Regions from separate parts of the Homo sapiens genome. Here all the other regions are reported to be linked to region 1. The links are microRNA targets in miRTarBase. Many come from high-throughput screens and were not tested one by one. Region 1 holds a microRNA gene; each other region holds the end of a gene's coding sequence.
The links. The annotated mature microRNA hsa-miR-6818-3p reads UUGUCUCUUGUUCCUCACACAG and lies in region 1 at 2,839-2,860, shown strand. An mRNA with a match to its seed (bases 2 to 7 or 8) in the 3' UTR can be bound and repressed. Matches are read on the target gene's strand: a 7mer-m8 pairs with bases 2 to 8, a 7mer-A1 pairs with bases 2 to 7 and ends in A, and an 8mer does both.

Region 2: miRTarBase lists ARHGAP18 as a target of hsa-miR-6818-3p. Seed matches in the 3' UTR shown: 7mer-m8 at 3,072-3,078 and 7mer-A1 at 3,361-3,367.
Region 3: the mRNA of AGTRAP is a reported target of hsa-miR-6818-3p. The part of its 3' UTR that is shown has no 7-base or 8-base seed match.
Region 4: miRTarBase lists LRRTM2 as a target of hsa-miR-6818-3p. Seed matches in the 3' UTR shown: 7mer-m8 at 3,465-3,471 and 7mer-m8 at 4,986-4,992.

The regions. Positions count from the first base shown.
Region 1 is chr22:30,004,254-30,012,087 of GRCh38, forward strand. It overlaps MIR6818 (microRNA 6818), which reads left to right and starts at 2,796; the gene lies at 2,796-2,860. It overlaps MTMR3 (myotubularin related protein 3), which reads left to right. Exons shown (of 20, transcript NM_021090.4): 10 at 2,861-3,066; 11 at 3,648-3,779; 12 at 4,765-4,876. HORMAD2-AS1 (HORMAD2 and MTMR3 antisense RNA 1) reads right to left here. Exons shown (of 5, transcript NR_110541.2): 5 at 4,493-4,943.
Region 2 is chr6:129,571,699-129,579,532 of GRCh38, reverse strand. ARHGAP18 (Rho GTPase activating protein 18) reads left to right here. Exons shown (of 15, transcript NM_033515.3): 15 at 929-3,401. The coding sequence ends at 1,020. Among named protein-coding and RNA genes, the nearest start is that of ARHGAP18, 130 kb to the left of the region's middle.
Region 3 is chr1:11,749,036-11,756,869 of GRCh38, forward strand. It overlaps AGTRAP (angiotensin II receptor associated protein), which reads left to right. Exons shown (of 5, transcript NM_020350.5): 5 at 1,042-1,734. The coding sequence ends at 1,157. Among named protein-coding and RNA genes, the nearest start is that of C1orf167, 9.2 kb to the right of the region's middle. RefSeq lists an enhancer at 1-503.
Region 4 is chr5:138,866,521-138,874,354 of GRCh38, reverse strand. It overlaps LRRTM2 (leucine rich repeat transmembrane neuronal 2), which reads left to right. Exons shown (of 2, transcript NM_015564.3): 2 at 1-5,434. The coding sequence ends at 1,345. The region is part of intron 7 of CTNNA1 (catenin alpha 1); the gene reads right to left. Among named protein-coding and RNA genes, the nearest start is that of LRRTM2, 4.9 kb to the left of the region's middle.

The DNA.
Region 1 (7,834 bases):
ATGAGTCTTATCAATGATCAGCTCAGCTGGAATGGGGAAAGCAGCCAGTTGCTGCTCTGGCCAACAACTGTGTTAGGTCAGCAGCCCTGGCATCTGTGGGGCTTGCTGACTTTGACCAAAAGGGGGAAGGTACTCTTATTTGCAAAATAAGAGGCTTTAGGTGAATTCTCCCTTTGGGAAGAGAAGCTTAAGAGGGCTGGTTGAAGAAAAACTTCCTTTTTTTCTAAATTTTATTCTAGAGGGCATGCACCTTCTAAAATTAATTCTAGAGGGCATGCACCCTAGGTTTTCCCCCCCTTTTTCTAGAGATACAAGAGGATATATAAATGAAAAATTTTATTTGCAGTTTTTCAGAGAAAGTCTTTCAAAAGATCACAAAGTTCTTGGTGTAGTCATCCATGCAAAATCAGGCAGGTTTCCTGGAACTGGGCTCTGTCTCAGAACATGTGTCTTGTATCGCTGAGATGCAGACTGGGTTGCTGTAGTATTTGGGAGCTTTGTAAGGGGCGTGTGGAAGAATCGGATCCTCCACCATGCTCTGCTTTGCCAGCCTAGGTGGCAGGATGCCTGGAACTCTTGACATCCATTTCCTGAATTTAGTTGTCTGTAGATTGGGTCATGATTCCTGAGGTTGCCAGCAGCAGTTACTTGACAGCACCATGCTGAACCAGCGCTTGATTAGGGCTTTGTCCTACTGTGATGAGAGAGCACTTAATTGGATTTATAACTGAAGGTAGAGATTGCTCTAACATAGCAAGATGATGTAAAGGGCACCCATCTGTAGTGCAGTTCACAGCTTTTTCCTTTGTGCATGTGGTGATTATTCTAAACTCCTAGTTACTTAAGGGAGCTTGCCTAAATCTAAGTTGAGGTTACTTAAGACAATTCTGTTCCTATATAAAATTGAAGCATTCTGTGTTTTAGTAGGGAGGGCTTTATCTGTTGGACATCATAATTTTTATACTTTGCCTGGTTCTGTTAGTGATAGAAATGCATTCCTTTAGTGATTTTTAACTGTAGTGTTTGAATTATCTTTCATGTAGTCTGAAGCATTTTAGAAGACTGCAGAAAACATAATTGTTTATTGCAATAGTCCAGTTGAAATCTAATAGCTACTATAATGCAGTGTCCCCTAAAACCCAAGATCCAGGCTGAAGAGCGCCATCTACTGCTCCTCTTGGGCACTGCTGGGAAGCATTGAAGAAGAGGAGGATGTTCAGGAAAGGCCCAACCAGCCTCTTGTGCAGGGTTTGGAGTCATTCAGCTCAGTGGTTGCCTGTTATTTGCTAGGAGACATTTTATAAAGAATCATTGAGGTTTTATTTCTATTTTGGCCCCATTCAGCACGTGAGCCAGTTGAGCATGTTGGCAATACACAAGTACTTACAGCTACTTGTCTCCCAGGGAGGGAGGCTTTAAAAACTACAAGCAAACTGGTGATTTCAGTGGAATTTGATTAGTGCCAAATTTAACTTATTTGTGAGTTTTAGGAGTAAAAACAAATTACAGTACATTTTCATCGTCCCAAAAAACCCATTCACAGGGCACCCAGCCACCCTAGCCCTGAATAATTAAGATGTCCAATGGATGAAGCCCCTGCTAGTAAAACATAGAGTGCTTCAGTTTTATATAGAAACATACTCGTTTTAAGTAACCCCAACTTAGAATTAGGCAAGCTCCCTTAAGTAACTACGAGTTTATAATAGTCACTACATGCAGAAATCTACTTCCATCTTTATAGATTCGCCTATTCTGGATACTTCATGTTAATTGTCGTACAATAAGTTGCCTTTTGTGACTGACTTCTTTCACTTGTCATAACATATTTGAGGTTCATCAGTGTCCTAGCCTGTATCAGAACTTTATTCCTCTTTACTGCCAAGTAATAGAATTTTTCTAACTTTTTATCAGTTAAAATTGCCTAACTAGGAAAAGTCTGGGTTTTAATAGCACCTTAAAGTAGACTGTGATTTCTGGTCTGTCTTATTGGAAAAGGATATGTCAGAGTATGGTTTTCTGAGGTTGATGCTCTTCTTCTCTTTCTTAAGAGCCCTAGGAAGGGTAGCTGGCTCATTGAGCTATCTGCCTATTATAAGAGCAGTCTGTGACTCATGAAATCTCAGGAGATTTTGTAAAGCAGTTCACTGTGGGCCAGGTAAATGTTTTATTCCCAGAGGCGGGCTCTTGGTTCAGCATTAAGAAGGTAGCAGATTTCACTATTGGGTAGCAGAATTAGTGTAGTACCTATAGATTTAAGTTACGAATATTGATTTATTTTCACTAAGAGTACACATTAATTCTTTTTTGTTTTTTGGAAATGGGGTCTTGCTCTGTCACCCAAGCTGGAGTGCTGGAGTGCAGTGGCACAATCATAGCTTTCTGCAACTTCAGCCTTCTGGGTTCAAGGGATCCTTCCACCTCAGCCTCCTGAGTAGCTGCGACTACAGGCATGTGCTACCATGCCTGGCTAATTTGTAAAAACTTTTTTGTAAAGATGGGGTCTTGCTATGTTGCTCAGGCTGGTCTTGAACTCCTGGGCTCAAGTGATCCTCCTGCCTCAGCCTCTCAAAGTGCTGGGATTGCAGAGTGAGCCTCCATGCCTGACCCCTGTTAGTCATTTTTTTGGGTAACTTTACAGGGATCTCCGTGATGTTATGGTAATTGAGAAAGACACACAGGTTTTGTTGTTTGTTCTTGTTGGTTGTGTAAGATTTCTACCCTCTTTAATACTGAGAGGACTTGAAGCTGACCCAACACTTACCTAGAATTAGACTGTTCATTAAGGCACTTAAAATCTATTTTGTGTGAGTACAGAGAGCATCTGAATGGGTACAGTTGTTGTCTCTTGTTCCTCACACAGGCACCAGAGCAATGGAGCTGTCATTGCCCGCTGTGGACAGCCAGAGGTTAGCTGGTGGGGCTGGCGAAATGCAGATGATGAGCATCTGGTACAGTCAGTAGCCAAAGCTTGTGCCTCTGACTCCCGATCGAGTGGCAGCAAGCTGTCAACTAGGAACACTTCTCGAGACTTTCCCAATGGGGGAGACCTTTCTGACGTGGAGTTCGGTAAGGTGCTCCCTGGACCCATGGCAATGATTTTTATAGCATCTAAGAACCTTTTCTTGAAATGGCCTCTTCCTTACAAGACATAGATTTACTTTTATAGAAGTGAATGTGCAGAGCTTCACTTGATGGGATTGATTGAGGAGTCATGGGTCTTGGCAGAGAATCAGAAGACCCTTTGTTTCAAACCTGAATCAAGATATTAGTGTGTTTGTTGTCTTTCTTGCCATTGTGACAAAAATGGAGTGTTTATGTAATAGAGGACTTGCAGTATCTGCAGACCATGGCAGGAAATGCCAGGCTTCATGAAAGGACAACAGATACAGAAATGAAGTATAAGAGACTGGGCTGTGTGAACCCCATGTGTACTCTGGGAGTCAGTTTTGGAGAATAAATCCTTCTCATCTTTCATAAGAAGGCCACATAGAAAAAAAGAGAAAAATCCTATGTATCAAGGGTTTTGGTTAGGGGATTTCATTTTATTGAGCCTTTTTTGTGCCATAAGATGTGCTTGTGGGTCTAATTCTGCACAGTTCTGGGAGAGACAGGCTCATTTAGTATGCCCTCTCCCTCTGTGTCCCTAGATTCTTCTCTGTCAAATGCTTCAGGAGCAGAGAGTTTAGCCATCCAACCGCAGAAGCTTTTGATCTTGGATGCACGCTCCTATGCAGCTGCTGTGGCAAACCGAGCCAAAGGAGGAGGCTGCGAATGCCCAGGTGAGGTGTATGGTGCTTTGTTCCCCATACTTTCTCCTTGTGAGTGTAGCCCTTGCCCAACTGAGACTTAGTTCCCAATTTGAAATAAGTGGCAAGCCATATTCCTCATCCATCCTGTCGTGAGAGTGCCAGAGCTTCTCTTTGGATTCTTAACACTGTATGTTCTTTTCTGAGGAGAAATGGAGGAGGAGGTGCAGTGAAGTCACATAATCTTCCTTCCTTGTGCCAACTTGTAGGTGATAAGGAAAGCAGATCTTCCCCATAATAAGACCTGTTCATGTTTGGAAGCTGCTGCTTTAGTGGGCTCAATTTCTCAGCCGTCTAAAAGCTTTTTGTTGCCTTTGACAGAGGGTATGCTCACCACTGGCCTTGTAGCAAACTCCTCAAGGGCCTCTCCTTAGAAAACCTGGGGTGAAAATTGAAGCAGTAAATACAGAACCCTAGTAAGGTATCTCTGTCCTGAGCTGTAACACCATTACTGTTGGAATGCTAGCTTTCCCCAAGGAGGGACCCCCCTCAGTGCCTATGGCACAGGCAGAGGCACCAGGCTCTTTGTTCAGATGTGGTCTAAGCTGGAAATTGAAAGCAGCTGTACCAAGGTGAAATTTGAATGTGTGAACGCATTGTTCTGTGGAGTTCTTTTCAAAGAGATTTCAAAGCCACAAGTTAGATAAGGCCCAAGAAGTAAAGCCAGAGTGAGATCGAAGTAGGCCTTTCTTTTAAAAAATAATAGCTTTTATTTTATGTCAGTATCTTCTTTACAAATCTAACCTTCCCTTTTCACGCTTTTTGAAAAGATAGCTAAAATTCAGTGTGTTCCTCTTATTATAAAGGATTGGGCTAATAGTTAAGCATTTCAAAACATTTCAGTTTCGTTAATCAGAAGCTGCAGTGGGTTTGTTTTATAGCCAGTTTGCTTTTAAATTTGGCCATGTGGGCTTTAAGTTCAACGTATTTGTGTTCTCTTTATTGTTACTCTCTCCAGAGTATTACCCAAACTGTGAAGTTGTGTTTATGGGGATGGCAAACATTCATTCTATTCGGAGGAGTTTTCAGTCTCTGCGGTTGCTGTGCACTCAGATGCCAGATCCGGGAAAGTAAGTCCTTGGCCTTGGCTTTCATTTTGCATTGCTCTTAAATAATAAGTTTGCTTCTTTCCTTGAACTAAGGGGGAAAAAAAGAAAAAAAAATTAATTTGGAGCAGTCTTTCCTTCTGTTTCTTGGTAATCTTCAGTTACCAGACCAGTCTCTGCAAGTATCTCCTTGCTGGGTCTGAAATGTGGCAGCACAGAGGAAGAGTTGGGAGAAAATACAGCCATTTGAAAGGTTTTAAAATCTGCAGCACAGAAGAAATCTCAGCATCAAAACAGAAGCATTACCTTACTGTTTGTCCTGGGACCTTTCCCTTCCACGTCATTTTTAGCCCAAAGAAATTTAATTCTTCAGTTTCTGATGTCCCATAGTGATACATAACCTGTTTTGAACTGGGATGTTTTATCATGAAAAGTCAGAATTTATTCATCATGTTCTAAAGGGTTTAAACTTGCCATTAAGTCAGTTCCTTTTACATCTGCTTTCAATTTCTAAACTGTTCTCATTTACTAAGCATATTATCCTGATTCTTATTGCTTATTAAATATGAATGGCTGGCATTTGCAGTGAGGAAGGTGAACTAATACCCCCTCCAAGGGTACTGATTGAATACAAGATAAATTAGGAAGAATGCTCTGTAAAACAAATATGGACAGATAAGTATTTAAAAATCCTGTTTTACTATTTCAGGAAGCCAGAGATAGGTGCCAGAGAAGACAGAATTTTCTTTTTTCTGGTATTTGTGCTGGAGCCCATAGTTGTTTCTCTGGGTCCTATTCAGTAGATCTGATGATCACATCAAGTTTTACTGCGTTCTTTATTTGATTTATTAAATCAGATGCTGCCTAAACCACTTATATTGACTGCCAGTAGCAAATGATTAAATTCACCGTAGTTGTCATCAGCCAAGAGGATGAAGCAGTGCCTTTGGGGAAAGCCTGACCGGAGAATTGAGCTTGCTGCCTCCTTTGGGGATTAGCCATTTGCATTTGCTACACAGTTCCAGGTCCCAGCTAGCAGCGCTTTCTTCCCTAGGGTGGTATGTAGAAGGAGCCTTACTAAGGACCCAGGAGATCGGCCGCGAACTGTGTAACCTTGGCCAAGGGGTTTAACTACTGTAGATCTCAGTTTTCCTGTCTATAAAATGAAAGACATGTAATCAACACTACATGATCTAATACCCTCCATATATTAAAATTCTTAAAGAGCTATCAGAGTCAAAAAAGATAGAATTAGCCCTCACCTGGTCCACATAAATGTCTTGGGGATTTTATTAAAGGTAATGCTTTTATGTATTTGGCAGCAAATCATAATGCTGCACTGAAGTCTCCCTCATGGGTAAAAAGCAGCTGTAGCAGTGATGGGCAGCTGTAATTAGGCCCCCGGCCTGTGTTTGGGGCTGTGGAGGATAGGGGAATGGTAGGCTTCTAGTGCAGGTTGAGAACAGGACAAGGGAATGGGGAGTCTCTCAGCAGCCCCTCCTTGGCTGGCAGGTTTTGGAGTACAGCTTCATTAGTCACAGACAACACCAACTGGTATTAAATAATAGTTTAGTTAGGTTCAAAAGAACCTCACACCGGTTCTCTTGTTTACCATTTCTTCAGGTGCTAGGAGATAATTTAGTATTTGTTCTCCTAAGCCTTATCTTTTAGTTCCTTTCAAGAATATGTGAGGAATGAAATAAACAATTGATCCATCAGGAAAAAATGTTTCTCAGGTACCTGCTAGGAGATAGAAAGTCTTACGATTGGATTTTTACCCATAACAGACTTACAATTCATTAAACAGTGGGACTCCCTACTGTATGCTAGGCACTGTGCTGGGGGTACAGTTATGACTGAGACATAGTGTTAGCCCTCTGAGGAGTCACAGTCTGGTTGGTAGTCCAAACAAATCCATATACAACCAGTACTTATGCACTGCATTCTGTTGTCTCTTTGCCTGGAAAGACCCCCACCTCCTTAGACTATGCCAAAATTTCATACTTATTCCACAGGGTTTAGTAGGCCTTTACAGCCTTCCCACAGTCCCCTGACAGAAATGTTTATTTCTTCCTCTGACTCAGTGTTTGAAAGACTTGACTTGTGATCTTAACTACAAATCTGATCACATTTGGGAAAAATCAACTCCTTTTTAGGGATTGGGAGGGGTGAGGGAAAGCACAAGAAACAAAATGCAACAGAGTTTAAAAAGCAAGTGTGATTAGCTTGTGATTACTCCCAAGGGGCAGCTACTGCTATCTGATACTCCGAAAGTGAGATGGAGTCTCTCTCTCTCATCCATGCTGGAGTGCGGTGGCCTGATCTCAGCTCACTGCAACCTCCACCTCCCGGGTTCAAGTGATTCTCCTGCCTCAGCCTCCTGAGTAGCTGGGATTACAGGCGTGTGCCACTATGCCCAGCTAATTTTTGAATTTTTAGTAGAGATGGGGTTTCACCATGTTGGCCAGGCTGGTCTGGAACTCCTGACCTCAAGTGATCCACCCACCTCAGCCTCCGAAAGTGCTGGGATTACAGGCATGAGCCACTGCGCCCGGCCTCTAAAAGTCTTTCAAAAAAAGGTTCTTCCTAGATCGCTGCTGAATCCAGTCTGTGTTGAGCCCAGCAATACTGTGTGGCCATTGGTATACTAATTTGTATCAGTATAAATTATCAGATTGGGCTCATCTTGTTTTAGTCAGTAAACATTAAAGAATTAAACAGTGGTAAGTGTTACAGTCTGGGTCATAGGCAGGGTTGTGTGTACCATTCTTGTATATGGCATCCAGCTTATGTCTCATAGATATATTTGTATTCATGAGTTTTTCTTTTCTTTTCTTTTCTTTTTTTTTTGAGAACTTGTTGGGCGTAGTTGCTGATCATTAAATATAAATATCTTCTGTTTTACATCTCAGAAGTGGCTACATTTTTTATTCAGGAGAAGATTCCAGAAAGAGCCACTTTCCTTATACCATGGACTGAAAA
Region 2 (7,834 bases), not on the chromosome of region 1:
TAACCATCTCTTTTTAAAAATTTAAAATAATCTTTTTTTCTTTTTTGACTCTTGGAAATGGTAAGGGTAAAATTATTAAGAAATAAATGAAATCATGTTAAGTTCAAAATAGTAATTAAAAATAATTTTGCAATAAATTTTGTAGGGTGTTTTTGTGGGAATTAAAAATGTTAGTAAATATTAAAAGTTAAATATAGGAATGTGAAGGTTTATTCTTAAATAGGCCATGACACTAGAAACCTGGAATTGTTAACTCTATTAGTAAAGGTTATTTAAATATTAATAGATTTGATTTCTTATTTTCCTTTTAGATCTTGGGAATTAAGTGTAGTTTCTTAGGTGGATTCAAAACCATTGCCCCTCCTAATAAGATGATTAAGCTTTTAAGGAACTATTTAAAAGCCTATCATACAAAGTATTTTCAGCTTCCTAAATTAATTTGAAACCTATTCATTTGGAGAAAGACTACCAAATTTATTTTTCCAATTGTTGGCCAATTCTTACAATATTTTGAGAAACAGGAAAGAATGAGAAGTTTTTTTTTTATTATTATTATTTGTTTTGTTTTGGAGACAGTGTCTGCCTCTGTCACCCAGGCTGAAGTGCAGTGGCGCAATCTCAGCTCACTGCAACCTCCACCTCCTGAGCTCAAGCCATCCTCCCACCTCAGCCCCCTGAGTAGCTGGGACTACAGGTGCAAGCCACCATGCCTAGCTAATTTTTGTATTTTTTGTAGAGATGGGGTTTCATTATGTTGCCCAGGCTGGCCTCAAACTCCTGATCTCAACCAATCTGCCCACCTCGGCCTCCCAAAGTAGAATAAGTATTTTGAAGTCCAAGACTTAAGAGTTAAATAATTAAGCTTAAGTTTAAAATTGCATACCAATCTACCTGCTGTATTAAACTGACACAACATCTATTTTAACAGGGGAACGCTGCCTTGATGATGACACTTACATGAAGGATTTATATCAGCTTAACCCAAATGCTGAGTGGGTTATAAAGTCAAAGCCATTGTAGAAGACTTAACAAGCTGCAGATAACCATGTGGACTTCTGTCATAATTCTTGCTGAGTCAAGAGTGTAAATAAAAGAAATGGCAGGACTCATATTATTCAGTTGTACCCAAGTATTTAAAAATGACTCTCTTAAGCCTTAAAAAGTCATAGATTTGTGCTGCTGCCAGAATTATATTAATTATTATTAATGTTATTATTAGAAAAAAAATTTCTGGAGTGAGAGTAAAGAGGCTTAATTAGTTTGTGGGCAGTTTTCATATGCTCTGTGAAATGTGTCCAGATGTGACATAGTTTTTTTTTTTAATATGTGGAAATGTCTTCTCTTCCCATTCTTTTCTCCTAAAATCATATATACTGTAATATATGCTCTCTCACCTCTATTACCTCCTCACATCTACCCTTTCCCAGTTAGGTTTGCTTTTTGACCAAAAAGATAACAAATACCAGGTATGGCAAGTTGTGAAGACAGCACATTAAAACATACCTAATTTCACAGTATTCCTGTCACGACAGAATGTTAGTATTCATCTCTTTGAATCATTTGCTCAAATAATAACATTCCACCTTTTCCTGCTGTATCACAGGAAGTGATTTGCATTTTTTTTCAGTTCATCTGACTTATGTTCACAGAACCGTATCAGCGACCAAGAAAATAGGACTGTCAGAAGCTGCCAGTTATTACTGAACCATTAAATACTTATATACTAAGAATAAATAAAATATACCCATGTGAAATAATAATTGGATTATGGATAACAAGAGAGTGAAAGCCAAAGCACTTTCTGTCTACTGTACTCTTCTAAATGGAATTTTAAAAGTCATAGCTGGCTTTACGTGTTGTCATTATTAGCATTATAAATATGCATGATAGTATAATCCAGTAATGGTTGAAGAATGTATTTTACTTAAAGAGGGATTTTTTTTTTTAAGTCCTGAATAAGTCTACTGGAAGAATTATTCTTCTGGGTGAAAAAGCTTTTGTTTGTGTTCTTATTTTAAATAATCGGAGTCAATTTATTAAAATGTTCTTGAAAGTACTATTCCCAGGGATTTTAATGCACAAACCATATTGTGACAAGAGATGAGCCTCTGTACTGTAAATAAGAAATGAAGTAGAGAAATGTTAAATATTTTATGAGTTTAGAATATAGTAAATAAAAGGTGATGTAAATGAATGCTGCACAAACGGTGTTCATGATACTTTTAGTAGTACTTTAGGAAAAACTACACATTCTCAGAAGCTCTTGATGTCTCTAATGAAGGGGGGGAATGCTGTTAATGAGAACAGTCATAAATTTTTAGCATATAATTACAAGAACAGCCTGTGGATATGATCACTTAAATGATTTTGTGGTGATTCGTGCCATTGCTTTTTTATTTAAAAGAAAATTTTGTAATTAAATGCCTTTTTCTAAATTATCTTCTCTTGGAATCATTACTTTTAATCCTATGTGTTTATGAGTATTTTTGCTTTTTTTTTATTAATATTGAGAAATGGACTTTTTTGTTATTAAAAGTCACCTCTATTTTCTATTTTCTTTGTAATTTTTAAAGTAGGAAGATGTCAGAGATGTAAATATGTTTTCGTCTTTAGTTTTTTTCCTTTTACAAATTTTTATTCTTCAGGATTTTCAAAATACAGTTTAGTCTGTTTCTTTGACAATATGTATTAATTTCCCAATTAGCAAAATGGTACTTATTAGTGGGTTGAAAACAATTAATAATATAAAAGAAAAATTAAGTGCTTAAAACATTTTAGGAGTATACAACTTCAAAAAAAAAGATAGCAGTGAGGATAATGATTTAAGTAAAAGGTTGTCTGAAGCATATGCCAACTAAATTTCGCAACGTTTGCTACCTACCTGAAAAGGAGGGTCAGGAGGGAGACACAACATATTTTTGATCATGAAAAAGTATCTTAATTTTAAAAAAGTGAAAATGCCATTTTATTTTGAATCCCTTTTAGAACTCACGACCCAAGTTCATCAATGTTGAATAATATCACGTTTAAATAACAAAAAAATATGGACTTTAAAAAATCTCAAATTTTTTAGAGACAGGGTCTTGCTCTGTTTTCCAGATTGGAGTACAGCAGTGCATTCGCGGCTAACTGCAGCCTCAAGCACTGGGGCTCAAGCAAACCTCCTGCCTCAGCCTCGTGAGTAGCTAGGACCACAGGTGCATGCCACCATGCCTGGCTCTAAAGAGAAAAAAAACTTGATACCATAGAGCCTTGAATATAAATATCCTGATGTTAACCTACTGCTTTTGCTGTGATTTTTTTTCCTTAGTGAGTTTTAAATCTCAGGCTAGATTTTTATTTGTTTTTCTGTGTGTGTATGAGACAAAATAAAAATAAATATATTTGCCTTGAGTTTAAAACATTTGAATTCTTAAAGGAGGACTGGTTGTCCTGGTAACGTTGGTGATGCTCTTTTCTGAAAGAGGCTTCATTAATCTGTTCTCACACTGCTAGGAAGAAATACCTGAGACTGGGTGAGTTATAAAGAGGTTTAATTGACTTACATGGCTGGGGAGGCCTCAGGAAACTTACAGTCATGGCAGAAGGGTAAGCAAACATGTCCTTCACATGGTGCCAGGAAGGAGAAGGATGAGAAGCACAGGGTGAAGCGGGGAAAAGCCCCTCACAAAACCATTAGATCTTGTGAGAACTCACAATCACAAGAACAGCACGGGGAACTGCCCCCATGATTCAGTCACTTCCCACAAGATCCTTCCCCCAACATATGGGGATTACAATTCAGATTACAATTCAAGATAAGATTCGGGTGGAGACACAGAGCCAGACTGTATCAGAGGTCATTGTAATTCTTTGCACTTACACAATCTTTGCTTAATGCTGCTGTAGGATTCGATGTAAATTCCTTACTAGTACTCTCTGGGAAAGGCAGATTATTTTACCGACTTCAAGGAATTTTTCATTATTGTCTGTCTTCGTTTTCATTAAACTGGTTTGGACTCTCCATCTGATTGTCCTGATTTCTCACCTACTCATCAGTAGGTGGCAGTATTGGTCAGGCATTCCTTTGAATCGAAACTACGGGAAGTTTTTAAAATGAACCCGAGTTCATAGGGAAGTTGCTAAGACTCAGTGCCAGGCATCTGCAAGGCAGCTAGGTAAGAACACTGTGGAGCTCTTGCTTTGATTACCGATTCTGAAATTGTAAATAATTTCAGAGTTTCTATGTTCAATCTGTTTGTCTGCTTTTATCCTTAATCCATTGAATGGGAAGGGCGGTAGAAGAGGACATTTTTCTAAGCTGAAATTAGGCTTTTCACAACGTCCATTTCAAGCAGAACGATTATGACAAGAAGGAAGGCAGTGAACCGGGAAAGTAAGTGAAGGGATGTCTAAGATAAGAAGGCATAATTAACTTTTTTTTTTTTTAATATAGTTTAAGTTCTGGGATACATGTGCAGAACGTGCAGGTTTGTTACACAGGTATATATGTGCCATGGTGTTTTGCTGCACCCATCAACCTGTCATATACATTAGGTATTTCTCCTAATGCTATCCCTTCCCTAGCCCCCCAACCTCTGACAGGCGCTGGTGTGTGATGTTCCACTCCCTGTCTCCATGTGTTCTCGTTATTCAATTCCCACTTACGAGTGAGAACATGCGGTGTTTGGTTTTCTGTTCCTGTGTTAGTTTGCTGAGAATGATGGTTTTCAGCTTTATCCATGTCCCTGCAAAGGACATGAACTCATCCTTTTTTATGGCTGCATAGTATTCCATGGTGTATATGTGCCACATTTTCTTTATCCAGTCTATCATTGATGGGCATTTGTGTTGGTTCCAAGTCTTTGCTATTGTGAACAGTGCTGCAGTAAACACACGTGTGCATGTGTCTTTATAGTAGAATGGTTTATAATCCTTTGGGCATATAGCCAGTAACGGGATTGCTGGGTCAAATGGTATTTCTGCTTCCAGATCCTTGAGGAATCACCACACCGTCTTCCACAATGGTTGAACTAATTTACACTCCCACCAACAGTGTAAAGTGTTCCTATTTCTCCACATCCTCTCTAGCATCTGTTGTTCCCTGACTTCTTAACGATCACCATTCTAACTGGCATGAGATGGTATCTCATTGTGGTTTTGATTTGCAATTCTCTAATGACCAGTGATGATGAGCTTTTTTTCATGTTTGTTGGCTGCATAAATGTCTTCTTTTGAGAAGTGTCTGTTCATATCCTTCACCCACTTTTTGATGGGGTTGATTTTTTCTTGTAAATTTGTTTAAGTTCCTTGAAGATTCTGGATGTTAGCCCTTTGTCAGATGGATAGACTGCAAAAATTTTCTCCCATTCTGTAGGTTGTCTGTTTACTCTGATGGTAGTTTCTTTTGCTGTGCAGAAGCTCTTTAGTTTAATTAGATCCCATTTGTCCATTTTGGCTTTTATTGCCATTGCTTTTGGTGTTTTAGTCATGAAGTCTTCACCCATGCCTATGTCCTAAATGGTATTTCCTAGGCTTTCCTCTACAGTTTTTATGGTTTTAGATCTTATATTTAAGTCTTTAATCCATCGAGTTAATTTTTGTATAAGGTGTAAGGTAGGCGTCCAGTTTCAGTTTTCTGCATATGGCTAGCCAGTTTTCCCAACGCTATTAAATAAGGAACCCTTTCCCCATTGCTTGTTTTTGTCAGGTTTGTCAAAGATCAGATGGTTGTAGATGTGTGGCGTTATTTCTGATGCCTCTGTTCTGTTTCATTGGTCTATATATCTGTTTTGGTACCAGTACCATGCTGTTTTGGTTACTGTAGACTTGTAGTACAGTTTGAAGTCAGGTAGCATGACGTCTCCAGCTTTGTTCTTTTTGCTTAGGATTGTCTTGGCTATACGCGCTCTTTGTTGGTTTCATATGAAATTTAAATTATTTTTTTCCAATTCTGTGAAGAAAGTCAATGATAGCTTGATGGGGATAGCATTGAATCTATAAATTACTTTGGGCAGTATGGCCATTTTCACGATATTGATTCTTCCTATCCGTGAGCATGGGATGTTTTTCCATTTGTTTGTGTCCTCTCTTATTTCTGTGAGCAGTGGTTTGTAGTTGTCCTTGATGAGGTCCTTCATATCCCTTGTAAGTTGTATTCCTAGGTATTTTATTCTGTTTATAGCAATTGTGAATGGGAGTTCACTCATGATTTGGCTCTCTGTTTGTCTATTATTGGTGTATAGGAATGCTTGTGATTTTTGCACACTGATTTTGTATCCTGAGACTTTGTTGAAGTTGCTTATCAGCTTAAGGATATTTTGGGCTGAGATGATGGGGTTTTCTAAATATACAATCATGTCATCTGCAAACAGAGACAATTTGACTTCCTCTCTTCCTATTTAAATACGCTTTATTTCTTTCTCTTGCCTGATTGCCCTGGCCAGAACTTCCAATATTATGTTGAATAGGGTGATGAGAGAGGACATCCTTGTCTTATGCTGGTTTTCAAAGGGAATGCTTCCAGCTTTTGCCTATTCAATATGATATTGGCTGTGGGTTTCTCATAAATGGCTCTTATTATTTTGAGATATGTTCCATCAATACCTAGTTTATTGAGAGTTTTTAGCATGAAGGTGTGCTGAATTTTATCAAAGGCCTTTTCTGAATCTATTGTGATAATCATGTGGATTTTGTCATTGGTTCTGTTTATGTGATGGATTATGTTTATTGATTTGTGGATGTTGAAGCAGACTTGCATCCCAGGGATGAAGCCAACTTGATCGTGGTGGATAAGCTTTTTGATGTGCTGCTGGATTCAGTTTGCCAGTATTTTATTGAGGACTTTCACATCGATGTTCATCAGGGTATTGGCCTGAAATTTTATTTTGTTGTTGTGTCTCTGCCAGGTTTTGGTATTAGGATGATGCTAGCCTCATAAAATGAGTTAGGGAGGAGTCCCTCTTTTTCTATTGTTTGGAATAGTTTCAGAAGGAATAGTACCAGCTCCTCTTTTTAGCTCTTGTAGAATTTGGCTGTGAATCCATCTGGTACTGAGCTTTTTTTGGTTGGTAGCCTATTAATTACTGTGTCAATTTCAGAACTTGTTATTGGTCTATTCAGGGATTCGACTTCTTCCTGGTTTAGTCTTGGGAGGGTGCATGTGTCCAGGAATTTATCCATTTCTTCTAGATTTTCTAGTTTATTTGTGTGGAGGTGTTTACAGTATTCTCTGATGGTAGTTTGTATTTCTGTGGAATCAGTGGTGATATCCCCTTCATCATTTTTTATTGTGTCTATTTGATTCTTCTTTTTTCTTTAGTAGTCTGGCTAGTGGTCTATCTATTTTGTTAATCTTTTCAAAAAAAAAAACAGCTCCTGGATTCATTGATTTTTGAAGGGTTTTTCATGTCTCTATCTCTTTCAGTTCTGCTCTGATCTTAGTTATTTCTTGTCTTCTGCTAGCTTTTGAATTTTGTTTGCTCTTGCTTCTCTAGTTCTTTTAATTGTGATGGTAGGGTGTCGATTTTAGATTTCTCCTGTTTTCTCCAGTGGGCATTTAGTGCTATAAATTTCCCTCTAAACACTGCTTTAGCTGTGTCCCAGAGATTCTGGTGTGTTGTGTCATTGTTCTCATTGATTTCAAATAACTTACTTATTTCTGCTTTAATTTCGTTATTTGCCCAGTAGTCATTCAGGAGCAGATTGTTCAGTTTCCATGTAGTTGTGTGGTTTTGAGTGAGTTTCTTAATCCTGAGTTCTAATTTGATTGCACTGTAGTCTGAGAGACTATTGGTTATGATTTCAGTTATTTTGCATTTGCTGAGAAGGGTCTTACTTCCAATTATGTGGTCAA
Region 3 (7,834 bases), not on the chromosome of region 1:
AGAGACTGCTAGGTGGCCAGGGCAGAGCCCGTGCCAGTGTAGGCTGTGGGAGCCTCAGTGAAGACAGCCCTGAACAGGGGGCACTTTCCCTGCCCACCGGCCCCTCCCCACTCACCCAGCCTTACACCTGCCCTCTCCCACGCCCTCTCTGAACTCCTGTACTCCTTCTCCTGGTGGCCGAGCCATTTGCCTGCTCTCTGACACCTCTCTCTCTCTTCCTTTCTCTCTCTCTTTGAGAGGAGTGGAGGGAGGTGGTAGGGTGTGGCCTTCTGCCTTTCACTCCTGAGATGAGATGCCCCACGTGGCCTGTGACTGCCACCAGCTGGTTGAGGGTGGGAATGGCCTGGGGCTGCCCACAGTGGCTGACCTCAGCACTGCCTGGGCCTGCCCCCAGGTGAGGGGTGCCAGAATGTTTCTCCCATTGGACAGATGAGGAAACTGAGGCCCACATCCTTTGGGACTTGTTCAGGGTCCCGGGATGAATGTACAGAGTAGGGGATGGGAGTGAGGCATGTGGCGTACTCGGAGCCCTACGGCCCTGCCTTGGACCCAGCCCCAGCCTCCGAGGCCATCTGGATATGGTAATGTGGTGTCCTTGTACCTGGGAGGGGAGCTGGAGAGGAGTGCGTGGGCCCGGGGCTGATGTCCCTCTGCCCAGGTTCCTAAGCACGTGCTGCCTGGGGAAGCCCATGGCACAGGGGCCAGGAGCCTGGCTTTGGACTCGGCTGCCTAGGCGTGGGTCCCAGCATCATCAGCTTTGAGCTGTGTGATCTCGGGCAAGTCACTTCATCCCTTTGACCCACAGTCTCCTCATCTGTAAAGTGGGGACAATAAAAATACCCGTCGCACAGGGATACGGCAGGATTGAATGAATAATACACGCTAAAGGTTTAGGGCCTGGGGCTGCTGCCTCTGTCTCTGTGCATGGTGTCAGGATGCCCAGCCCGAGGGTGGCGGGGGTGGATCTTGGGTTGGACTCAGCTGAACATCCCGAGTTCTCACCCTTCATTTTTCTTTCCCACCATGTCCCCTGTCACCTAGGTTTCCTTGGGTCTTCTCAGGACCGTAGTGCCTACCAGACGATTGACTCAGCAGAGGCGCCCGCAGATCCCTTTGCAGTCCCAGAGGGCAGGAGTCAAGATGCCCGAGGGTACTGAAGCCAGCCACGCTGCGCCCGGCCCTGCCCCGGGCCTTCCTCGTGCCTGGGAGGTCGTTCTAGGGATGCTCCTGACCTCCGTCTCTTGGACCTAAGATGGAATGTGTCCCCAGCTCAGGGATTGCCTGAACCAAGAGGCCAGGAGCCCCCATGGGCCGCCCAGTACCATGCACACTCCTGTCCCGAACTCCCTGAGGCCTCCCCTCCCTTCAGGGCACCCACTGGTTCCCAGGCTGGAACCAGGGTCTCTCTTTACCTCCTACCCCATGGTGGCACCACAGAGGCCCTCAGCCGAGTCCTGCCTGAGTGTTGCAAGCTCAGGCCTTTAAGGACTGCTGATGCCCCCTCAGGCCTCCCCCAAGTTTGCTGGGCTTTGGTGGAAGCCCTGAGAGCTTCAGGTCCTGCTCAGCCCGAGGAGCAGTCTGGCATGGGAGTGAGGCCCCGTCCTTCTCACTGCCTGGTCACATGGTGCCTAGGGATGCAGGGCTGGAGGCCAGAGGTGTCAGCAACACTGTGTCCCACCACAACCTCCAGCCTCCCTTTTCAGAGCACAGCATTAAAGTTTGGGGAATTCTGTAGATGGGCTGTGTTTTGAACCACCTTCAATCTCCTGGCTGGGCTGGGGCCTGGCCTTGTTCCTGGGAAGATGTCTCCTGCCAGTTCCCAGGTGGAGCCTGTGCTGTGCTGCCCCATTCTGTCATGGCAGGAGGAAACAGGCATGTGCGTTGGCTGAGCTGGGCTTGAGCCTGGCTCTGGCCTAGCAGAGGCCACAGGAGAGAGAGACACTGGTGGGTGTGGTGCGTGGGCATCCGTTTCTCTGAACCAGATGACCCAGGCACTCTTTGGAATCCTGCTCTGCCACTTACTAGCTGCATGCCTTCAGTGTCTTCTAGAAAGGGTTGGTGCCTGCTCCAGGTGTGAAGTGCCTGGCGTGAGGAGGGCTCCCTAAGTGATGGTGAACTTGTTAGCAGTGGACCTGCTCCTCAGGCCAGTGACGATGCTAGGTTAGGAGGCAGGGGCGACCTCTTCCTGGTAGCCCCTGTGTCTGGTCACAGCTGACTTGGGCTGACACGTCCAGAAGTTCCCCAGGGCCTCGGCCCACCCCACGGACAGGTCTAGCTATTCACAGCTTGCTCTTCTGCCCCCTGGGCACCAAGTGCCAGGGCTTTCCCAGGCCATCCTGGCTTGTCCCTGGCACAGGGTCAAGGCCTAGTGCACAACTCCCATTATTCTCTTGCGTCCATCTGTCAATCAAAAGAGGCTCAGTACCTGCCTGGTGCCGAGCGGGCTTGGGGCTGCAGTGGTGACCTTGGGAGCCTGCTCTCAACCTAGGAGTCTTCCCACCTGGAGGATTACAGACAGAGGCAAGAGCCCCGAAAGAAGAGGACATGGGCCTCTGGGTCAGGGAGGAAGGCTGCTGTGGGGAAGGGGCTGTGCTCCGGGCAGAGGGCTGCTGAGCAGCTGCAGTTGTGAGAAACTGGAAACAGCCTCACTGTCGGGAGACGGACCAGTAAGCCACGGTCCATTCATTACAGGGAGTATGGACCAGGAAGCCACAGTCTATTCATTGTAGGGAGTATGGACCAGGAAGCCACAGTCTATTCATTGTAGGGAGTATGGACCAGGAAGCCACAGTCCATTCATTGTAGGGAGTATGGACCAGTAAGCCACGGTCCATTCATTATAGGGAGTACGGACCAGTAAGCCACGGTCCATTCATCGTATGGAGCACAGTGCAGCAGTTACAGCTGTTAAACCAGACCTATTTCCACCAACGTTGGCCCCCCGCAAATGTGAACAAAGCAGATTGCAGAATGGCATTGGGATGAATTTTCAGACCTCACAGCAATGCCATATGTTGTTCCTGGGTGTATGTGCGGTAAAATAGAAAAGCATGGACTAGAAGGACACCTGTCAGGTTCATGACTGTAGCCACCCTGGGTGGAGGAGGAGCGTGACCCGAGGGGAATGGGACTAAGACCCAAGTCCGTTTATCTTGTGTATACAGCATCCTGGCCCCGGGAAGGCTTGTGTACCTGCGTCGTGAACGTGTCAGATTCCCAAAGGGAATGAAAAGCCAGGGCAGGGGCTTGGCCCAGGCAGTGGGGGCAGATGATGCAGCCTGGGCCACGCACAGGGGAGTGTATCTAGACACCTCAGTCCCTCATCGTCCCAGACCCCCAGGTTGAACCGGCTCTTTGCGGGAGAGGACAGAGGAAAGCTCCTGTCTCAGAGTGTACCCCAGAAGCAGAGCCTGCGATGAAAGCAAGGGTGCCAGGCTTTCCAGTCATTGGCTAGGAGCTGCTCAGGGAGTGGGAGAGGGTGGCTTAGATTTGCAGGCACTGTGCCACCCCCCGACTGTGCAGGCAGTCGGGAGCCGGAGGGCCATCAGAGGCAGACAGAAACGGTGGAGGAGGCAACCATGTGGCTGCCCCTTCCACACAGCGGCCTTAACAGGGAGAGCTTCTAACATACAACAAGCGCCCCAGAGCCCACTGTGAGTGAGGCCGTGTTCCAGAGGCAGGGGATGCCAGGGTGCGGGAAAAGTCACCCAGGGGCATTCCATTTAGCATGAGAGGTTCTTGGTGACAGCTAACAAGGCCTGAGGCAGAGAGTGGCTGAGCAGAGAGGGTGGGGGAGGGAGAGAAGAAGACAATGAGGTCAGAAGGTGGCTGGGGTCAGATGTGCAGGCTTAGCAAGTCATTCTGAGGACTCCAGTTCTGGCTGAATGAGATGGGAGCCCCTGGAGGGTGTTGGTCAGAGCCGGGCAAGGTCTGCCTTATATTCTTTTTTTTTTTGAGACGGAGTCTCCCTCTGTCGCCCAGGCTGGAGTGCAGTGACGCGATCTCAGCTCACCACAACCTCTGCCTCCCAGGTTCAAACAATTCTCCTGCCTCAGCTTCCTGAGTAGCTGGGATTACAGGCATGCGCCACCACGCCCAGCTAATTTTGTATTTTTAGTAGAGATGGGGTTTCTCCATGTTGGTCAGGATGGTCTTGATCTCCTGACCTTGTGATCCACCTGCCTCGGCCTCCCAAAGTGCTGGGATTACAGGCGTGAGCCACTGCGCCTGGCGTTTTGTTTTGTTTTGTTTTGTTTTGAGACAGAGTTTCGCTCTTGTTGCCCAGGCTGGCGTGCAATGGTGCAATCTTGGCTCACTGCAGCTGGGTTCAAGCGATTCTCCTGCCTCAGCCTTCCAAATAGCTGGGATAACAGGTGCCTACCAACATGCCCAGCTAATTTTTGTATTTTTAGTAGAGATGGGGTTCACCATGTTGGCCAGGCTGCTCTTGGACTCCTAGCCTCAAGTGATCTGCCCACCTTGGCTTCCCAAAGTGCTGGGATTACAGGCATAAGCCACTGCACCTGGCTTGCATTCTAAAAGGACCATGTTGGTGGCTTGGATGGGGGCAGTGGTGGGGGTGGTGACAAGTGGTCAACTCTTGGACACTCTCTGAAGGCAAAGCAGCAGGACCTGTGATGGGCTGGATAGAGGATGCAGAGACAAGCCCGGGACTGTGAGGTGTGGGCCTGACTGGAAGGCTGGAGCTGCCGCTAGCCAGGAGGGAGGACGTGGGAGGGCAGGTCCAGGATGAGGGCAGGTCCAGGATAAGCCCAGGACTTCAGCCATGGACGGGCTGCACTGTGCTAACGAGGCTTTCCAACTGGACATTCTCACCACTGTGCAACTTTTAAAAGGCCCATGTCTGTAGGGACTTGGAAGTAGGGCACCCTGCAGGTTTATATAGTGTCTGACATTCTTGAGGCTGTCAACCACAGGAAGCAAATTCCTCTTGCCTCTGGTCTCCTGCTGGAGAGGGCTTGTATCAGTCTGTTCTCATGCTGCTGATAAAGACATACAAGACGGGGTAATTTATAAAGGAAAGAGGTTTAATGGACTCAAAGTTCCACATGGCTGGGAAGGCCTCACCATTATGGTGGAAGGTGAATGAGGGGCAAAATCACGTCTTACATGGAGGCAGGCAAGAGATAGAGCCCTTGCAGAGGAACTCCCATTTATAAAGCCATCAGATCTCATGAGACTTATTCACCATCACCAGAACAGTATGGGGAACCATCCCCATGATTCGAGTATCTCTACCTGGCCCCGGTCTTGACACATGGGGATTATTACAATTCAAGGTGAGCTTTGGGTGGGGACACAGCCAAACCATATCAGGACTGAAGTCACACTTGTCCAGTTTGCAAATCTATTTCTTGTTTTCACAAAGCTGAGCCTTCCACATGAGGAAGCCAGAGAAATTGCCCCACAGGAGGTCACTGCCTTCTCCTGTTGGCCAGAACTGGACCAGAGCTGCAGTACCTACAGGGCCCCACCTCAGGCCGGTTCTCAGAGTCTCCGGAATGGCCTGGAAATGCCAACTCTCACACTGTGTCTCTAAACGGGCTCTGGAGTCAGTGAGCCTTGGTTTAAATCCCCTATGCACTCTGTAACTGGCTGTGTTAAGAGACACTATCTCTTAACCTCACTGTGCCTCAGCTTCCTCATCTGAAAATGGGGACAATAATAGTGCCTGACTCGGGTATTAGTGAGGACTGAAAATGGTGCAACATCAGTGTTTAATAAATGTTAGATCTCATTATCTGTACGACTGTGTAATCATTTAGAGAGGGAAGGAGTCCAGGTGGCCTGTGACTGGTACCAGCCGGTCGAGGGCAGGAGTGACCTGGGGCCTCCCACCCTGGCTGACCTCATTGCTGCCAGACCTGTCCCCAGGTGAGGGGCACCAGAATGTTTCTCCCATTGGACAGACAAGGAAGCTGAGGCCTGCAGCCCCTGGGACTTGTTCAGGGTCCCAGGATGAATGTACAGAGGAGAGGATGGGTGTTAGGAGTGTGGGGTACTTGGGGCCCTACGGCCCTGCCTTGGACCCAGCCCCAGCCTCCGAGGCTGTCTGGATACAGTAATGTCGTGCCCTTGTGCCTGGGAGGGGAGATGGAGAGGAGTGCGTGGGCCTGGGGCTGGTGTCCCTCTGATCAGCTTCTATGGGGAAGGCCATGGCACAGTGGCCTGGAGCCTGGCTTTGGGCTGGGCTGCCTAGGCATGGATCCCAGCATCATCAGCTTTGAGCTGTGTGATCTCGGGCAAGTCAATTCATCTCTTTGACTCAATGCTATGAACATTTCTTGAGTGCTTTCTACAAGTTTTCAAAAGATTGGAAAATTTTTCAGGAAGTAAAACAGATTTTCCTCACTAGCAACAGAACTCAGGACCCAGTTCTCCAGGTGGTCAGGTGCTTTTGTTCACACGTCTAAGTCAGAAACTACAGAGTCAACAGGTTGTCATAAAACATTGTCATATCTGAGATGAAAATTCAGTATCACAAATTTGAACTTGAAGGAAACTTAGACCTCCCCTAGCCCAGTGGTTTTAAAAATATTTTATTTCAAGGCCAGGCGCAGTGGCTCATGCCTGTAATCCCAGCACTTTGGGAGGCTGAGTTGGGAGGATCACCTGGGGTCAGGAGTTCGAGAACAGCCTGGTCAACATGGCGAAACCACGTCTTTACTAAAAGTACAAAGACTAGCCAGGCGTGGTGGCTCGTGCCTGTGGTCCTAGCTACTTGGGAGGCTGAGGTGGGAGAATCACTTGAACATGAGAGGCAGAGGTTGCAGTGAGCTGAGACTGCGTCACTGCACTCCAGCCTGGGCGACAGAGTGAGACTGTCTCAAAAAAAAATTATTTCAAATCCCTTGTTTAAAAGAAATATTCAATATATAAGAGGCAGCAGGTCTGATCAAGTACCCTCTCATCAGTACCAGGGAACCCAGGGATCCCCAGAGCACAACGTGAAAGCTGATCTCCTAGTTCCTAAATCTCCTAGACACAGGCCCAGAAGGGACAGCCTTGGACAAGGGCACACGGAGACTTGATTTCAGAGCTGGAATGTGGCAATGCAGAGATCAGGATTGCCAGTGGAGTTTTAAAAGAATGAAACAGAAGTATAAATGAAAAACACATGATTGAAATCAGAAACTCAATGCCTAGGTTAATTCATAGAATAGATTTATCTGAAGAGAGAAATGGTAGCCTGGGAGATAGATTTGAAGAAATCACCCAGAATGCAGTAGAAAGAGACAGAAAATACAAAAAAGAAGTTAAGACACAGGTTGGGCATGGTGGCTCATGCCTGTAATCCCAGCACTTTGGGAGGCCCAGGTGAGCAGATCACGAGGTTAGAAGTTCGAGACCAGCCTGGCCAAAATGGTGAAACCCCGTCTCTACTAAAAATACAGAAATTAGCTGGGCATGGTGGCAGATGCCTGTAATCCCAGCTACTCGGGAGGCTGAGGCAGAAGAATTGCTTGAACCCGGGAGGTGGAGGTTGCAGTGAGCTGAGATCACACCACTGCACTCCAGCCTGGGTGATAGAGCAAGATTCCATCTCGGGGGGGAAAAAAAGAAGACACAAAGGATAGAGTGAGAAGGAGCAATATAAATATAGCCAGAGTTCCTGAAGGAGATGATGAGAGAGAAGCAACATTCAAAGAAATCATGTCAGAATATTTTCCAAAATGGAAAGACAGCAAAGCTCAGGTTCAAGAAGCTAAACAATTCCCAAACGGGATAAATAAAAAGAGGTCGGGCGCAGTGGCTCACACCTGTAATCCCAGCACTTTGGGAGGCCAAGGTGGGTAGATCACTTGAGCCCAGG
Region 4 (7,834 bases), not on the chromosome of region 1:
GCACAATCACATCACAGAGCTCGAAAGAGATCAATTTGCCAGCTTCAGTCAACTTACTTGGCTCCACTTAGATCACAATCAAATTTCAACAGTAAAAGAAGATGCTTTTCAAGGACTATATAAACTTAAGGAATTAATCTTAAGTTCCAACAAAATATTTTACTTGCCAAACACAACTTTTACCCAACTGATTAACCTGCAAAATTTGGACCTGTCTTTTAATCAGCTGTCATCTCTGCACCCAGAGCTCTTCTATGGCCTTCGGAAGCTGCAGACCTTGCATTTACGTTCCAACTCCCTGCGGACTATCCCAGTACGCCTGTTCTGGGACTGTCGTAGTCTGGAGTTTCTGGATTTGAGCACAAATCGTTTGCGAAGTTTGGCTCGCAATGGATTTGCAGGATTAATTAAACTGAGAGAGCTTCACCTAGAGCACAACCAGCTGACGAAGATTAATTTTGCTCATTTCCTACGGCTAAGCAGTCTGCACACGCTCTTCTTACAATGGAACAAAATCAGCAACTTGACATGTGGGATGGAGTGGACCTGGGGCACTTTAGAAAAGCTAGACCTGACTGGAAATGAAATCAAAGCCATCGACTTGACAGTGTTTGAAACGATGCCCAATCTTAAAATACTCCTCATGGATAACAACAAGTTAAACAGCCTTGATTCCAAGATCTTAAACTCCCTGAGATCCCTCACAACCGTTGGTCTCTCTGGCAATCTGTGGGAATGCAGCGCCCGAATATGTGCTCTGGCCTCCTGGCTGGGCAGTTTCCAAGGTCGGTGGGAACACTCCATCCTATGCCACAGTCCTGACCACACCCAAGGAGAGGATATTCTAGATGCAGTCCATGGATTTCAGCTCTGCTGGAATTTGTCAACCACTGTCACTGTCATGGCTACAACTTATAGAGATCCAACCACTGAATATACAAAAAGAATAAGCTCATCAAGTTACCATGTGGGAGACAAAGAAATCCCAACTACTGCAGGCATAGCAGTTACTACCGAGGAACACTTTCCTGAACCAGACAATGCCATCTTCACTCAGCGGGTAATTACGGGAACAATGGCTTTATTGTTTTCTTTCTTTTTTATTATTTTTATAGTGTTCATCTCCAGGAAGTGCTGCCCTCCCACTTTAAGAAGAATTAGGCAGTGCTCAATGGTTCAGAACCACAGGCAGCTCCGATCCCAAACACGACTCCATATGTCAAACATGTCAGACCAAGGACCGTATAATGAATATGAACCCACCCATGAAGGACCCTTCATCATCATTAATGGTTATGGACAGTGCAAGTGTCAGCAGCTGCCATACAAAGAATGTGAAGTATAATATCTACCCATCATCAAAAATCACATCAGATAAGTAACCTATTTTACATAGTAGAGGCTAAATACATATCTAATTTTTACCAATGGTGACATTAAGCCTAATTTTCCAAACTAAGTGGAGACTTAGTTTTTGAAGTGTTGAAGTATTTTTAATTTTTTAAATGAAACCATATTTTAAGTGTTAAATGAATCAATGCTCACATTAATTTGCACTCCTGTTGGAAAGTCTAAAATGCTTACTTCAAAATAAGAAATGTATGTAATTATATACAATCGTGTGTAAACCTTTACACTAAGGTCTCCATATACTATTTTTTTCTACTGAAAACAATTTAGAAAGAAGCTATTGGGCAGAAACAGATATAGATCAATACCTGTTTGATCACTGCTCTCCATCCCATGTACCACAACTATCTTGCTGCTTAAAAGGAGACTTAGTAAAGTTCTCTTGTATGATAATTTGGTATTTACTCAAATCTTCAATTTCTTGCCAGGGTGGGAAGTAGAATTTCATGTATGCTGAAGACTGGTAAATATTAAACATTCTCCTTCCAGAGTTTCTGCCTGGGTTAGTAGATATTATCAAAGTCCATATCATGAATTCAGAACCCTTTAATGTAATTCTAATAAGCTGAGTGACTCTTTAATATATTTACACAATGAATCCAAGTGACTGTGAAAAGGTCTCATTACAATGAAACCAATCCTAAATAATTACACCAACTTCTTATACATTTCTCGTTTGACTTATAATGGACATGATTTTTGTGGCATTTAGACAACTGTTTTAAACTAGCATTAAACTGTCATTGTACTAATTAATGTACTAAATCCTATGTTTACATTAATATGTGAAAAAAGATTTAGAAGATATTTTGGAGATAAACAAGACAAACTGAGTCAATTTAACAATCCTGACATGCTCCCTCCAATTTAAAAGCGCACACACACACACACACACACACACACACACACACACACACTCTCGCGCTCTCTCTCTCAACTATCATGATCAAAGATGCCTTGACAAAGGGGTTTAAACCTCTTTCTTCTGCTTTTTCCTGATCTTCAAACCTCAAAGAGCCAAGTTAAAAATAATTGGCTAGCAACAGGCTTAACACTGATTCTTATTGTATTACAAAGGAACCATGAAAAAAAACACTTTCCAACTATTATATAATACATTTCGATCTTTCAATAAAGATACGCATTCACGCTGTAAGTGTAGTTCAGTGTAGGTGAAGAAAACAGCACCACTGAGATGAATCTCATGGCAGAACAACTCGACATGCCTATGCAGCCACACAGTGGTAACTTGAAGGCAGCACAGAGGTGAGGGATTAAAAGGAAAGGCAGATTTTGAAATCTGACTCTCAGGTTAGCTGGAGTTACAAGGCAGCCAACAATGATTATACACAATCTGCACCAAACAGGGAAAGGACCTGCTGCTGAAAAGGGAAGAGGGGTAGATCCTCCAATGTAAATATAAACATGCCATAGTTAACAAATGATAAGGATGCCACATTTTTCATGCAGAAAAGAACCACAGGTATTCAGTTTCTTGTATTATGATTTCTAAAGAAAACCTATTAAATATTTGGAATTTAGATGCAAGCTACTCATTCACACAGAACTTTTCCATAAACATTGTTCCACATATTGAAAAAACTGTAAAATTATAGCACTAACTTGATTTTAGAAAATGAGCATTTTTTACAACTGCCATTTACTGTATGTAGAAAAAAGACATAAAACCTTAGAGAAAGCCACTACCATTTTTCAAGTTATCTTTTCCCCAACATCAACATCAACATGATATCCTTCATTCAGGGCATATTTTTTCTTCCCAGGATCAAACTGAAAACATGTTAAGGCTATAGTTTAGCCAGTAAGATTTAATCACAATTTTTCTTCTTTAATACTAAGAGATGGGTACCTTAGTACCCTTCACCTAACATCTCTCGGTAAAAAGCAGACAAGATCACAAATTACAGTAAAAATGTGCTCTTTTTTAAGGTGGGCAGATTAGTTTGTCAAAGTCTCAGCCCAGTTCAATTCAGTTGATCTCGAGTGGTGAGTATTTTGTCTCTTGTTAAACCAGACCCTGGGCTTGTCTGGGCAGAGACAGAAGCTGATTTAACAGCATAGAGCACAGCGCCCTACTTCCCCACAGACAGGCTGAATTAGAAGCCCCTATTACAAATAAGAGCACCACGAGCTAAAATTTACCAACCCATTTATCAGGATGACCATTGCCATTTGTCAGGTGACAGACAGCTTGGTCACAACACAACTGTGTCCTGAGCACACAAGATTCCATCAGCCCTGAAGGACAGCAGAGGAGTATTTTCCATCATTTCAAACCACAAACAAAATTAAGATTTAAACTGTGGGATGGGTAAGAAATCCCCTTCTTTGGCTGGGAATCTCCACCTTAATCCTTAAAGGACCATAACTGGCAAAATCCTTAGTGTACGGACAAAAGCAAATTGGAAAAGCCAGCCATTTACTAATTCAGAGGAACAGCATAGCCAAGGCTAGCGAGGCATACTTTCCAGTTGAAAAAAATCAAAATTTTTTGCCTTCCATTTTTCTGGGTAATGTCCTTTAAGAAAAGTGAATGACAGTAGTACCAAAAAGGTATTTTCCTTTCTCATTTAAAAGCAAAAACCTCCCTTTTTAATTGCCTGTAGAAGGCAAGATTTTCTTTCATTTTTGTCCATTTGTGTTTCAGAATCAGCACAGGTTTGAAGATTAGACTGTTAGTCATCTGTGCTTTCTTTACCAACTGGCTAGAACGGAACAGCATCACAGCAACGCTGCGGATCTTGGTTACACAGTGTCAGAGCTTTTGTTTTTTGATGGGGTTTTATCCTCTTCACCACCACTACCCACTCCATTTTTTTTCTATTTTTAAGATTAGAGGAAAATGACCATTAAGAACCAGAAAAATAATTAATCTCTCTGGAAAAAGGAAAGCTAAAGAAGACTATGATACCATACCCATCTAGAAACCAAGAACTAGTTTGAAATCGTTTATATTCATTTCTGTAGCATGACAGGGATTTCAATCACCTTTCTGAAAAGAGTGGGCTGATAAACTTGTAAATCCACACACAACTCTGAGAATACCCACTGCCAGCATCAAAAAGCAAAGATACTAATTTTTTAAGCCAAAAATCTGTACTAACACATGTAATTTCTTAATGTGCCTAAGTTAATTTCTGTATCAATTCAATAAATGGAATTGACTGAACTTCCCAACGCCACTAATTATTAAAATCCATCTGCTTATTCTAATGCTAGTCACCAAGAGCTAGACTCCATCTTTCCAATAAAAATGAGCCCTATGTAGCACTAGGTTTGAATTCTAAAATTCAAAACAGGCATTTCATTTTCTTAAGGCACACTTCCTACACACAGCTATCAGGGGAAAAAGCTATAAATGTCCTGTTCTTTTTCTGAAGTGTGGATATCAATATAAAATTTGTTAAAGAATATTTTTAACAGCTGACTTACATGATCGTTTTCCTAATACAGGAATACAGCGACAGACCTATCTGAAAAGTCTGTTTGGGGGCATACTTTTCATATCTTATTGACTAAAGCCCTTGAGCCAGGAAAAAAAAAAAAAAAGAGAGAGAGACAGTAAGGCCATCTATAGATAATTAAATATTTCTCTATCTAACCTGGGGCAAACTCATAGTACTTGAATAAGGCCAAAAACAAATAGAAAATTACTGTTTAAGCTTTCATTCTGCTATTGCAAACATTTGGAAACCTCTGCAACTCTTTCAACTAACATTTTTGTCCTTAGCGGTTTTTTTTTTTTTTTTTAAGTCTGATATATGGAATGTTTGGTGAACCTTCCTATCAACACTGAGACTGGAAACTCAAAGTACAGTCCAAATACATTGTGTTCAATCACCTTCAAGAGCCATTTTTCTTTTTGGGTGGGAGGTGGGCAGATGGGTTGAGGGTGGGAAGAAAATACTATTATGCAGGGTGTTTTGGGAGGGGGGAGGGTAACATAAAGAGCAGTGTACAGGCAAGTTTTGTTATTAAAATTGTGTATACTGTAAAAAGTGAATGCCTTCTTTTTACTTTTCCTTGATAACCTATCAATTTTGACATGTGAAACTTGAAAAGCCATTTGTGACAGACATAGAAATCTTAAATGAACAGTTGTTTTATTCCATGTTCCTCTACAATGTCAAATGTGTCCACTGAAAAAAGGGGCAGCTAATCATTACCTGTCTTCAGAGAGAGGTAAAACTAGGATAAGAAGAAAGTAAAGGTAAAGTGGTGAGAAGGGAGAGTGCCTAAAAAGCTGTCATGCAGTAAGAAGCTGCTCTGTCAAGAGCCTGAGCAAGTGGACAAACAACTGTCCCAGGCTCACAGGGCATGGAGTTGGCTGCCCCTCTCTGAATCCTCCATTACAGTGAACTAACACCACAGAGAGCTTCGGAAAGGTACCAATTGCCTGTATCTAGCCAACAGCGACTTGGCCTCTACCTTGGGGGTTGGTTGATGTCCATCCCAGCAGCACCTTCCATGCCACTCCTAGGAGGGAGGTCCCACAGGTGCTTACACACTAGGACCATGAAGATCCCTACATGACCTCCTCCACCCTGGATGACGACTCAGTGAGTACAGATGGGAAAAGGAAGGGAAGATTTTAAACTACAATTGACCCTTGAACAACACTGGGGTTAGGGGTGCCAACCCCCTGCTCCACACAGTCGAAAATCTGCATAACTTTTGACTTCCCAAAAATTTTTATTAATAGCTACTGCTGACTAGAAGCATTACTGATAACATAAACGGTCAGTCCATATTAGATAACACATATTTAATACCGTCAGTCAAAATAATACATATTTTATATGTTATATGTATGATATATGGTATTCTTACAAAAATAAGCTGGAGAAAAGAAAATGTTATTAAGAAAATCATGGTGGGGCATGGTGGCTCACGCCAGTAATCCCAGTACTTTGGGAGGCTGAGGTGGGTGGATCACCTGCGGTCAAGAGTTTGAGACCAGTCTGGCCAATAAGGCGAAACCCTGTCTCTACTAAAAACACAAAAATTAGCCAGGCAACCTGGTATGCGCCTGTAATCCCAGCTACTCGGGAGGCTGAGGCAGGAGGATTGCTTGAACCCGGAGGTGGAGGTTGCAGTGAGCTGAGATCATGCCACTGCACTCCAGTCTGGGTGACAGAGTGAGACTCCATCTTAAAAAAAAAGAAAAAAAAAAAAAGAAAGAAAGAAAATCATAAGAGAAAATACATTTATCATTAAGTGGAACTGGATCACCATAAAGGCCTTCATCCTTCTTGTTGTCTTCACATTGAGTAGGCCGAGAAGGAAGAGAAAGAAAAGGAGTCAGTCTTACTGTCTCAGGGTTATCACAGGTGGGAGGAAATCCACATATAAGTATCACAGGTGGGAGGAAATCCACATATAAGTAGACCTTAACAATTCATACCCATGTTGCTCAAGGGTCAACTATAATGTCCTTGGCTTGCTACAGATAAACATCCTCAGGACAGGATTCTACACCTGGGCAGTGCTAGGGCATAAACTGCCCTGGCTTCCAGGAGCTGACTGCCAGTAGTCTGCCGTGTTTGCCCAGATGCACTTATTGTTTCTCCAGCACCACAGCCCCATAGCAGGACCACATGGAGGAATAGGCAAAGCCACCCTTTTCCCAATGCCAGGGAAGCTGGGATCAGAGAGACTAAGAGAACTCTCACACCAGGAATATCAGCAGTAACCAGGGCAGAAGCAGGAAACAGAGAACACAATTCTATTGTCAAACTCATCCCATAAGCACTAGAGGGCATAGGTGATGGTGGTTTTAAATTGCACAAAGGAACACATTCCTATACTTGATAGAGTTAAAAGCAGAGCTTATTAACATAATTCTCCTACATTTTAATTTTGAAAATCCCATTTAAAGCTACATCTGATTTATCAGTTATTTTAATTAATTTTGTCTATATGCCACAGCATTCTCAGGTTCCCACTCAAATATACAATAGATTCTTCCTGGTCTGTTTAAAAATTTGGGGTAGTCATGTCTCCCTTAGAGAGACAAAATGTACTACAAATTGTCTTTTACAAAGAGGGAAGGGGAAAAAGAGGTGAAAGTCATAGCTACTGCAAAAACATTTCTCCTTAGCATGAATTTGACCTTTATCCTCAATACTTGTTTTGGGAATACTCTTAAAGGACACATCTTAAACCTCCCCTTCTACTATCTGAAGAGGACAGTAAAGAGCAAGAAATCTCCAAAGTCAAGTACAATCAAGCATCCTATCCTGCGAAGCCTACAAATGAAAATACTACCCTCTATATATGGAGGCTGAAGAGCAAAGGCTTGCCCAATGCCTCCAAGTCAGGAACTCCCAATAGAAATCCAGCATGAAGAAGCATCTGCTAACAGCAACCCTGATGGGCAGAGGCCAATGGTTCATGCCTCACT